2 separate regions of the Homo sapiens genome follow, and region 2 is linked to region 1. Evidence: fine-mapped expression QTL. A gene starts in region 1. The other region holds a variant in brackets. All regions are shown on one strand. Distances are between the middles of the regions. Region 1 holds the start of KITLG (KIT ligand). Region 2 has its middle 130 kb from the start of KITLG.

The links. PIP is the estimated chance that this variant, and not a neighbour inherited with it, causes the effect.
Region 2: its variant is the best candidate, but not a certain one, in a credible set for the expression of KITLG in monocytes after R848 (Quach 2016, PIP 0.84).

Annotation. Positions count from the first base shown.
Region 1 is chr12:88,578,399-88,582,797 of GRCh38, forward strand. KITLG (KIT ligand) reads right to left here and starts at 2,073. Exons shown (of 10, transcript NM_000899.5): 1 at 1,866-2,073. The coding sequence starts at 1,880. LOC105369885 (a long non-coding RNA gene) reads left to right here and starts at 2,138. Exons shown (of 4, transcript NR_188177.1): 1 at 2,138-2,212; 2 at 3,599-3,740. It also overlaps the pseudogene RNU1-117P.
Region 2 is chr12:88,450,790-88,455,188 of GRCh38, forward strand. No RefSeq gene overlaps it. Among named protein-coding and RNA genes, the nearest start is that of KITLG, 130 kb to the right of the region's middle. The variant A/G (reference allele first, on the strand shown) is at 2,435.

The DNA of each region.
Region 1 (4,399 bases):
CCGAACAGGTCACATATCTAAAATACTTAGCTTTCTCAAATTTCTCTGGTCGGCAGCACTGAGTCACTAATGCCACAGTCACAATGTTTCAGACTAGATTGACCTCTTTCTAGTTTTCAATGGAATTATTCCATGTAATCCGATTTACACAGCCATTTAATCAAAGCGAGAAAGGAGATTACAGAGCTCACATTTGTTTTGCAAAGCAAGGGTGCAAGGATAATCAATCCTACTGCCTCTCAAAGTGACTTGATAGTACATCCCCTGGCTTTGGAGTGTTGGACATTAACCTTATCTGTCTCCTGTGTTCTTGTTTAAATAGGAAGGTTTAGGCTCTTTTCCTGAACTAGAAGGTAGCAGCTTCTTCCCCCAGATCTCACCACCATCCATGGGAGCAGATGCTACTATAAGAAGGAATAGGTCTCTACCCTTCTTATAATTTCGCAGAAAGCTTGTCTAAATCAAGAGATTACAATAAAACTTTTCTTTTGTTGCAAGAATCTTTAACATTTGCATTTCGACAGCACGCTGTGGTGATTCCAGGTGCGGTGCTCAATGCCTTGCCTGAAAGCTAACCTGCTTGTAAGAGAGGGGAGAGGCACATCGCGTCTTTTCTCTTAGAGAGTGCTCTAGAGACTATGCAAGCCTCTTTTAGCCAGGCAATGTCCCTTTCCCCTGCCTTTTACCACACCGGTACAAGGGGCTAGAGTCTTGCAACTTTTTGCAGGCCTAGATATCTGTTTAAAATATGATGCTAAGCAGGTCATTTGATAAAGCATTTTGAGCACATTGATGCCTTCATTCTACACCAACGATGTGTACAAACACCCCGGTTTCCTTTTTCCCCACCACTTCCACCCCTTCCACACATTTCAGGAACTGCAATCTCCAACAGAACCTCTGGGGGGTGAAAGGGCAACCCTTAGCCAACCGCGGCAGATAACACATAACAATTTCTAAGGGGGAAAGTGAGAGGAGGTAACAATCAACAATGGTGAAGAGAACTGTGGATAGGGGCACCGTGGCGGCCCTTTCTAAACGAAGAACCAGGTATTTTCTTCAAGGGAAAAAAAAATCTAATTGTCCCCCCAGGCAGCGCTTTACCCACAGTGCTTTATGTATAATGCAGAATTTAGCAGCACTGGGAATTATCTCAATCACTATCATTCAGAGGTGCCTATTTTATAAAAAGCCTTTATCCCTTTTGAAATGGAAAAAGGTGCGTGCATTGTGGAGGTACTAGAGCTCTTTAGAGCCCACACAGAGCTGCAAACTAGGCAGACACCGCCGAGAGCCAAGTTTCCCGGGCAGGCGGGCAGGTTCCCGCCCCGCCGAGAGCTGCCGCTTAGGAGTTCCGCGTTGGCTTCGCTCCCGCGGCTGCACCCGCGTTCGCGCCGCTCCTGGTGCCCGGCGCCCACCTCGGGGCTACACAAATAAATCTGAGTGAGAGAGCTAGTGAGGGTGGCGCGTGGGGTGCTGTTTCATAATCTCCTGGAATCCACGGGAAAACCGTCTCCTATGCAAAGACATGCCTTCCCGTGATAACTTAACATTCCATGGCCCAAAAGCCAATCTTTCCACCAGACGGGAATTACGGTTTCCGACTGACAGCTCAAAACTTAACTGCTGAGGCTCCAAACTTGACACTGGCTCCCTCTCAGCACTCCCACTCCTTTTCTCCCTGGCTCACCCGGCTCGGCTCGGGATCACACACCACGCCGGCCTCCCCCGCATCCTCTTGTCTCACCCGGCAGGCACAGCCCTGCACGCCCCAGCTGCAAGTCCCAGGGAGCGCCGGCTTCCCCGGGGCACCGGGCGCGATTTTTCCTGGAGAGCCTGGGAGCTCCCGGGCGCGCCCTACTCACTTGTGTCTTCTTCATAAGGAAAGGCAGCGCTGCGATCCAGCACAAACAGTGGTGTGGCGACTCCGTTTAGCTGTTCTGGAGCTCCAGCATATTGCACGAACAGCGGCGGCAGATAGTCCACGCATTGGGTAGCCCGAGCGCAGCGCCCTCTCCACTGTCCCTGCTTCCCGCAGCGCTTCTAGTCTCGGCGCGAGGCGGCGAGCGAAGCCCGGCTGCTGAGCCGCCGGCGCTTTTATACAGTTCCCGCCCGCCTGCTCCGGACACGCCTCCTTCCCTTCCGGAGCCCGGGGTAGGCGAGAAGCAGGCAAGGGCGCGGAGGGAAGAATCGGGAGGGCGGCCAGAGCACGGTAAATGCCCCAGAAGTTTGGCAGATTAGGCCAACCTTGTCCGCTCGCCTGGGGGCCCCGGACCTGCACTGGCGGGAGACCGCGAAGGCGCGGGGACGCAGAGGGCGAAGCTTGGTACCCTGCAGCTACTGCTCGCGAGGAGTCCCAGCTTACCCTCCCGGATCCGCTGGGGCTCACCTGGCACCCCCGGGGACAGACGAAATACCTCGCGCGCCAGAGAGGGCTCGGAGCTCCCTCTGTTATACAAAGTCGGAGAGGGAGAGGAGTCCGGGAGGTTCGGAGCAAAGAATTCACCCTGCCTGCCTTAGAGAAATAAAGTTTAATTGCGATCTGTAGTTAGGCCATTGTCCTATCACCTCTATTTTTTAAAAAAAACAATTACTTTAGTGAATGAATATTTAATAATTACAAGAATTGTTGACTCAAGGTTAAGTATTGCAAGGGGAGACGCTTCATTTGGAATGGTTTGTTACTGTGTCTTTAGAAATTAAGATTGAAAGAGAAGCGATAGATTATTAAACTACAGGTCGCCAACACAGCAAGGCTTTGAAAGTTGTACTTTTTTGAACGGAAAGATAATGCAACCACAATAATAATAGCTAACATCATTATGTGATGCACTTATTCATGTGCCAGGTGCCAGACTAAGAACTTCGCATAGATTATCTCATTAAATTCTTTCATCAAATCTATTAGTGTAGATCTTATTATTTTATTCCCATTTTATGGACGATGAAATACAAGGTTAATTTTCTTGACCAACCATATCTAGTAAATGGCAGAGCTCTAATTTAAACCTGGAGCTCCAGCTGTACAGTCTTAAAAAATACTTCAAATATTTTATTGATTCTCCAGAATGTGTCTGTTTTTGTTTGTATAACTGGAGAACATTCCAAAGCATTTCATTAATTTTTTAAAAGAAAATATTAGCTGAACATTAACATCAGTGATCTTTAAAAGAAAGAATAATGTATGAGTTTAGGAATTAGTTATTTTAATAATAGAGTAGGAGTCCAAATTTGCTTTAATTAGTTCCGGTGCGTTTGTTAAACATGAATATGCCAAACCTGTAATCAGGGCGAAGCTTGTTTATTTCACTCCAGATGTGCTGACTTCTGTGATTTCCCCAAATGTGGGAAACTCGACTGCATAATTTAGTGGGGGACTGCGTTCTCACTTTCTCATGTTAGAAAAAATATGTATAGACAGCACATCAATCATGATTCCAAGTTGATAGTTGCTTAGAAAGATTTTTATACATTAGGTACTCTTAGTACAAATATATCGAACATCAAATATCAAAATGAGCTTAATTTGGATACTGGAGGCATAGCAAATGATTGTTTTTTTTTTCTTCAAGATTTATTTTTATTTTTTATTTTTTAGATGGAATCTCGCTCTGTCTCCCAGGCTGAAGTGCAATGACGCAATCTCGGCTCAATGCAGCCTCCGCCTCCCAGGTTTAAGCGATTATCCCGCCTCAGTCTCACAAGTAGCTGGGATTACAGGTGCCCACCACCACGCCCAGGTATTTTTGTTGTTGTTGTTGTTGTTTTAGTAGAGACGGGGTTTCACCATTTTGGCCAGGCTGGTCTCGAACTCCTGACCTCAGGTGATCCGCCTGCCTCAGCCTTCCAAAGTGCTGGGATTACAGGCGTGAGCCACTGCACCCGGCCCCTTTAAGGCTTTTTTGAAGTGGAGAATTTTATTTTTTTTCTCCAGCTTTATTAAGTTATATTTGACAAAAATAGTATCTATTTACCACGTACAATGTGATGTTCTGCTTATGTATACATTGTGAAATTATTAAATCAGGCTAAATAGTATATCCATCACCTCACATACTCATCATTTTTGGGAGCTGAGAGTATTTAACATCTACTCTTTGTAGTTTTGGAGTACCTCAGTATATTCAGGGGATTGATTCCTAGACCTTTCAGGTATACCAAAATCTACATATATTCAAGTCCCACAGTCAACCCTGCAGAACGTGCAGACACAAAAGTCAGCCCTGCTTATACATGGGTTTTACATCTCTAGAACACTGTATTTTCCATCTGAGTTTGAAAAAAAAATTGCATATAAGTAGACCCATACAGTTCAAACCTGTGTTGTTCAAGGGTTAACTGTATACAGTACATTAACTGTAGTTATCATGCTGTACAATAAATCTCCAGAACTTATTCA
Region 2 (4,399 bases), 130 kb before region 1:
TTCTGCATTTTCTGGATCACTCTGCCTGCTCATCTACTATCAGTGCAGCATCGGTCAGCACCCTACCAGGATAAATGGAGTTTATAAAGGATTTCTGGCCTCACTCAGAAACAGCTGGACAAATGAGTTTTACGAACTCATCAAAGATCCGTAAGCAATTTATATAGGAACTTCAAATTAGCTGATAAGCACTTTTATTTTTGGTCCTCGTTTATTTATTGCCACTTCACACTGATCAACTTCAACTAAAATGTTGCTGTTTTGTGGCAATCTTCTAATCATCATTTGTGTAGTATTCTGAAGTTGGCAGGGTATCGAGGACTCAGAGTTCAATACTTGAATTTTACATTTGAGGAATGTAAATGGCTAATCAAGAGCCATCCGCTAAATTCAAGTTAGAACTGAGAGCCCCGGACTCTCAGTTCATCGCTCTTTTCTCTCAGCTAGGCTTCCCTAGAAGGCCATTTCAGATTCCTTTCCTCTACTTGAAATTTAATCTTAACTCGTAGCATATACTCACTCAGCATTTAGCTGAGTGAGATCTTTCAAGCTGGGTCCAACTTGTGCGTTTCTTCCAGTCTTATCTCAATATCTCTCTGGCATTTTGTGTGTGTGTGTGTGTGTGTGTGTGTGTGTGGCCCTTCTTAATGTTTTCTCCTGAATTCCTGAAGCAAATTCCTTCTTTAATCATTCTCCTTCTTTTGGGGCATCTGTACTCTCTCTCAGCCAGTTTCTTCTCTCCTGCTTACACATATACCTAGGTCTTTCCTATTTTTATATAGTGGACATATTTTAATGTTTTAAATAAAATTTATTGTACTGTCTGAGCTTTCAAATTCTTTTTCATTCTCGGGGCAGCTTTGCTCAGAAATGGTTATTGCAGATCATTTATTACTCACTGCTTTTCTTTTTCTTTATTTAAAATTTTAGATTCAGGGGTATATGTACAGGTTTGCTACATGGGTATATTATGTTATGCTGAGGTTTGGGGTATGGACCCCGTCACCCAGGTAGTGAACATAGTACCCAATAGTTAGTTTGTCAGCCTACATCCCTCTCCCACTCTCCCTGCTCTGACTGTCTCCAGTTTCTATGGTTTCTATCTTTATGTCCTTGTATACTCAATCTTTGGTTCCCACTTATAAGTGAGAACACGTAGTATTTGATTTCCTGTTTTTACTTTTCACTTTTTTATGGGATTTTTTTTGTCATTCTGTGACACTCTTTTTCTCTTTACCCCTTTTCCTGTTGTTGATAAGAAATATCCTTGTATTCTTAATAGCTAGCATAGTGCCTGGCATATGCTGAGTGTTCTGTAAATTTTTTAAATAAATAAATGATTAAAATAGTAGAAAAATTATGATAACCCTTAGGAAACCTGACTCTTCATTAAACATGCTTAAATAGGAACCAGGCTATGTGTACAAATATAAACATAAACATACATACAAAGGAGGAGCTCAGAAGCTTTTTATGTGCTCACTATGCATTCATCTGTTCAAAGCCCCTTACATGTTATTGTCTCATTTGATAATAATAATAGTTATTATTATTTTAATGGTGACTGCAGATAGTGCTCAGAATGGGTTAGGTACCATTTAGATCACATTACTGTGTATTCACAAGAACTCTATGTGGTAGGCACTTTTTTACCTTAACAGAGACACAGAGAGAAATAGCTTTTGCATTTACACAGCTAGTGAGTAGGAGAGTGAGGACTTGAACTTATGCATTCTGACTCTAGAGTCTATACTCTAATCACTCTTATCACCCAAGGTCTCACAAGTAGAGTGGGTGTTCCAAAGAAAGCATACTCTGTATCCTACTCCAAGGACCATTTCCCTAAAACATCTTCCTTTCCAGCTTCCATGGTAAGTGACTAAATTTTTTTATTATTCAGTGATAATCTTTACAGAAGGGACTTAAAGAACTGAAAAATAAACCCTACAAAGGTATCATGCAAAATAAAAATGATATAAAGCTGTAATCAATCATTGACATTTTAGCATAAAATTATTTATCAGATAAACATTATTGGTCCTTGACTCTTAAGGAAATTGGACATGAGACAGACAGTAAGTCAAGTTTTGAAATTTGGACAAATTAAAAAGCCTTTGAATCTGCTACCATCAAAGTACTCTATACTGTGTGATTACTTCTGTCTTGCCTGATTATGCCTAATTTTGAATATATTCATTTTATTTTAGATTATATATTTCACTTTGCATCATATCATTGGGACCAATGATTTCTTTCTTTAGCTCAAGCTGCATATCTTAAGAAGTATTATTAATAAGCATAATTTAGACATATTTCTCTCACCTGAAGAAATAATCTCCAATTTTATAGTATAAGTCTAGTGGGAAAGCTGTGTCTAATATAGAATTTTGCTTTAGCAATTACTTTTATTTACATCTTGTTTCAAGACACAGCC[A/G]TTGAGCTAGGTATTCCTGGGTGACAGCCAACCTCTAATTTTTATTTATTGCCTGCGCCAACTTTGTGCTTTTTAAGCTTCTAATAAAGAACACTTGGTTTAAGCAATTTTGTAGTCATCCCTCATGTATGGGACCTCATGTAACATGTTTTGTAATGACATACATCATCTTTTATAATAAAATTTCATCTTATGAGTCTTTCAAGTAGTAAATCCCTTTTGATTTCTCAGCAGGATAAAGTTCTACATGTATATTATACATGAATCATCTGTTTTCTTTAGCAATTCACTGATCTCATAAAGCATGCATCTGGGTAAAGAACTACTGAAGATTTAAACCTCCTTTATTTGGATGAGATATGTATTGAAAATGAAAAATTGTTAAGCTAACAGTAGCAAATTCCATGTATTTGGAAGAGTGATTTCATCAAGCTTTTCTCTAATCCATTGGATTTTAAAACAATTCATAGTTACTTAAGAGTTTACTTAAATAGTAACCCTCAGACAGCAGAACTTTCTCTGGAAGCCTCCCTCAGGAAATAGTCTTGTGTGTTCTCTTCCTTGAATAAAACTAAATGGCAAGATTAGGCAATGGATGGATACTTTCTAATTGTTCACTTTTAGAATGCTAGAACTCACGTTAATTTCAGAGGAACTTCAACTTTCATTTTTCAAGACATTATTATAGAAACAGAGCATTTGGTGAAATGTTAACAGGATATCAAATTATGGATCTTCCCATTTGGAAGTGTTATTAGCCAGAGTTCTCAAGAAAGAAAGAACCAATAGGATGGGTGAATAGATAGATAGATCAGTGAGAGGGGATTTATTGGGGGAATTCGTTCATGCAATTATGGAGCCAGAAATGTTCTACAATAGGCCCTCTGCAAGCTGGAGATCCACGATGCTGGTAGCGTGGCTCAGTCCAAGTCTGAATGCCCTGGAACAAGCAATGCTGTAACTCAGTTTGAGGCCAAAGACCCAAGAACCCGAGTATGGAGAAGCACTGAAGTCCAAAGGTCAGAGAGCCTCAGGTTCTGGTGATGTCCAAGAGTAGGAGGAGAAGGATGTCTCAGCTCCAGGAGACAAAAAGAGAGAAAAATCATATTTCCTCTGCCTTTTTTGTTCTATCAGGCCCCTAGCTGATTGGATGGTGCCTCCCCACATTAAGGGTGAATCTTCCCTACTCAGTTCACAATCACACACACCTATCTCCTCTGGAAACACCCTCACAGACATATCCAGAAATAATGCTTCAACAGTTCTCTAGGTATTCCTTAATCCAGTCGAGTTGACATCTAAAATTAACTGTCACAGGGAAGTTAGGCCAAGATCCCAAAGCTGAGAACAGTAAGTGCCAAGTACTCCCACGGTTAAGGCAAGATGGGCCATTTATAAAGGAAGTGGCAAAAAAAAAAAAAATGTTCTGCCAGTGTTGGTTCAGATTGTATCAAAGAATAATTCAGTAGGAGGTAAGGGATGGGAGGGTGTCTTAGATCTGGCTGTTACAACACATTACAATAGACTGCGTGACTAAAGTAACAAACATTTATTTCTCATGGTTCTGAAGGCTGGAAGCCGGAGATCAGGGTGCCACCACAGTTAGGTTCTTGATGAGGGTCTTCTTCCTAGTTATGTTTTTGCATGGCCTTTCCCTGGTGTGTGCATGCAGGAAGAGCTCTCTCTTTCTTCTTCTTCTTTTTTTTTTTTTTTTTTTTTTTTTGAGATGGAGTCTTGCTCCATCACCAGGCTGGGGTGCAGTGGCACAATCTCGGCTCACTGCAACCTCTGTTACCCAGGTTCAAGCAATTCTCCTGCTTCAGCCTCCTGAGTAGCTGGGTTTACAGGTGTGTGCCACCACGCCCAGCCAACTTTTGTATTTTTAGTAGAGACGGGGTTTCACCATGTTGGTCAGGCTGATCTCGATCTCATGACCTCGTGATCTGACCGCCTCGGCCTCCCAAA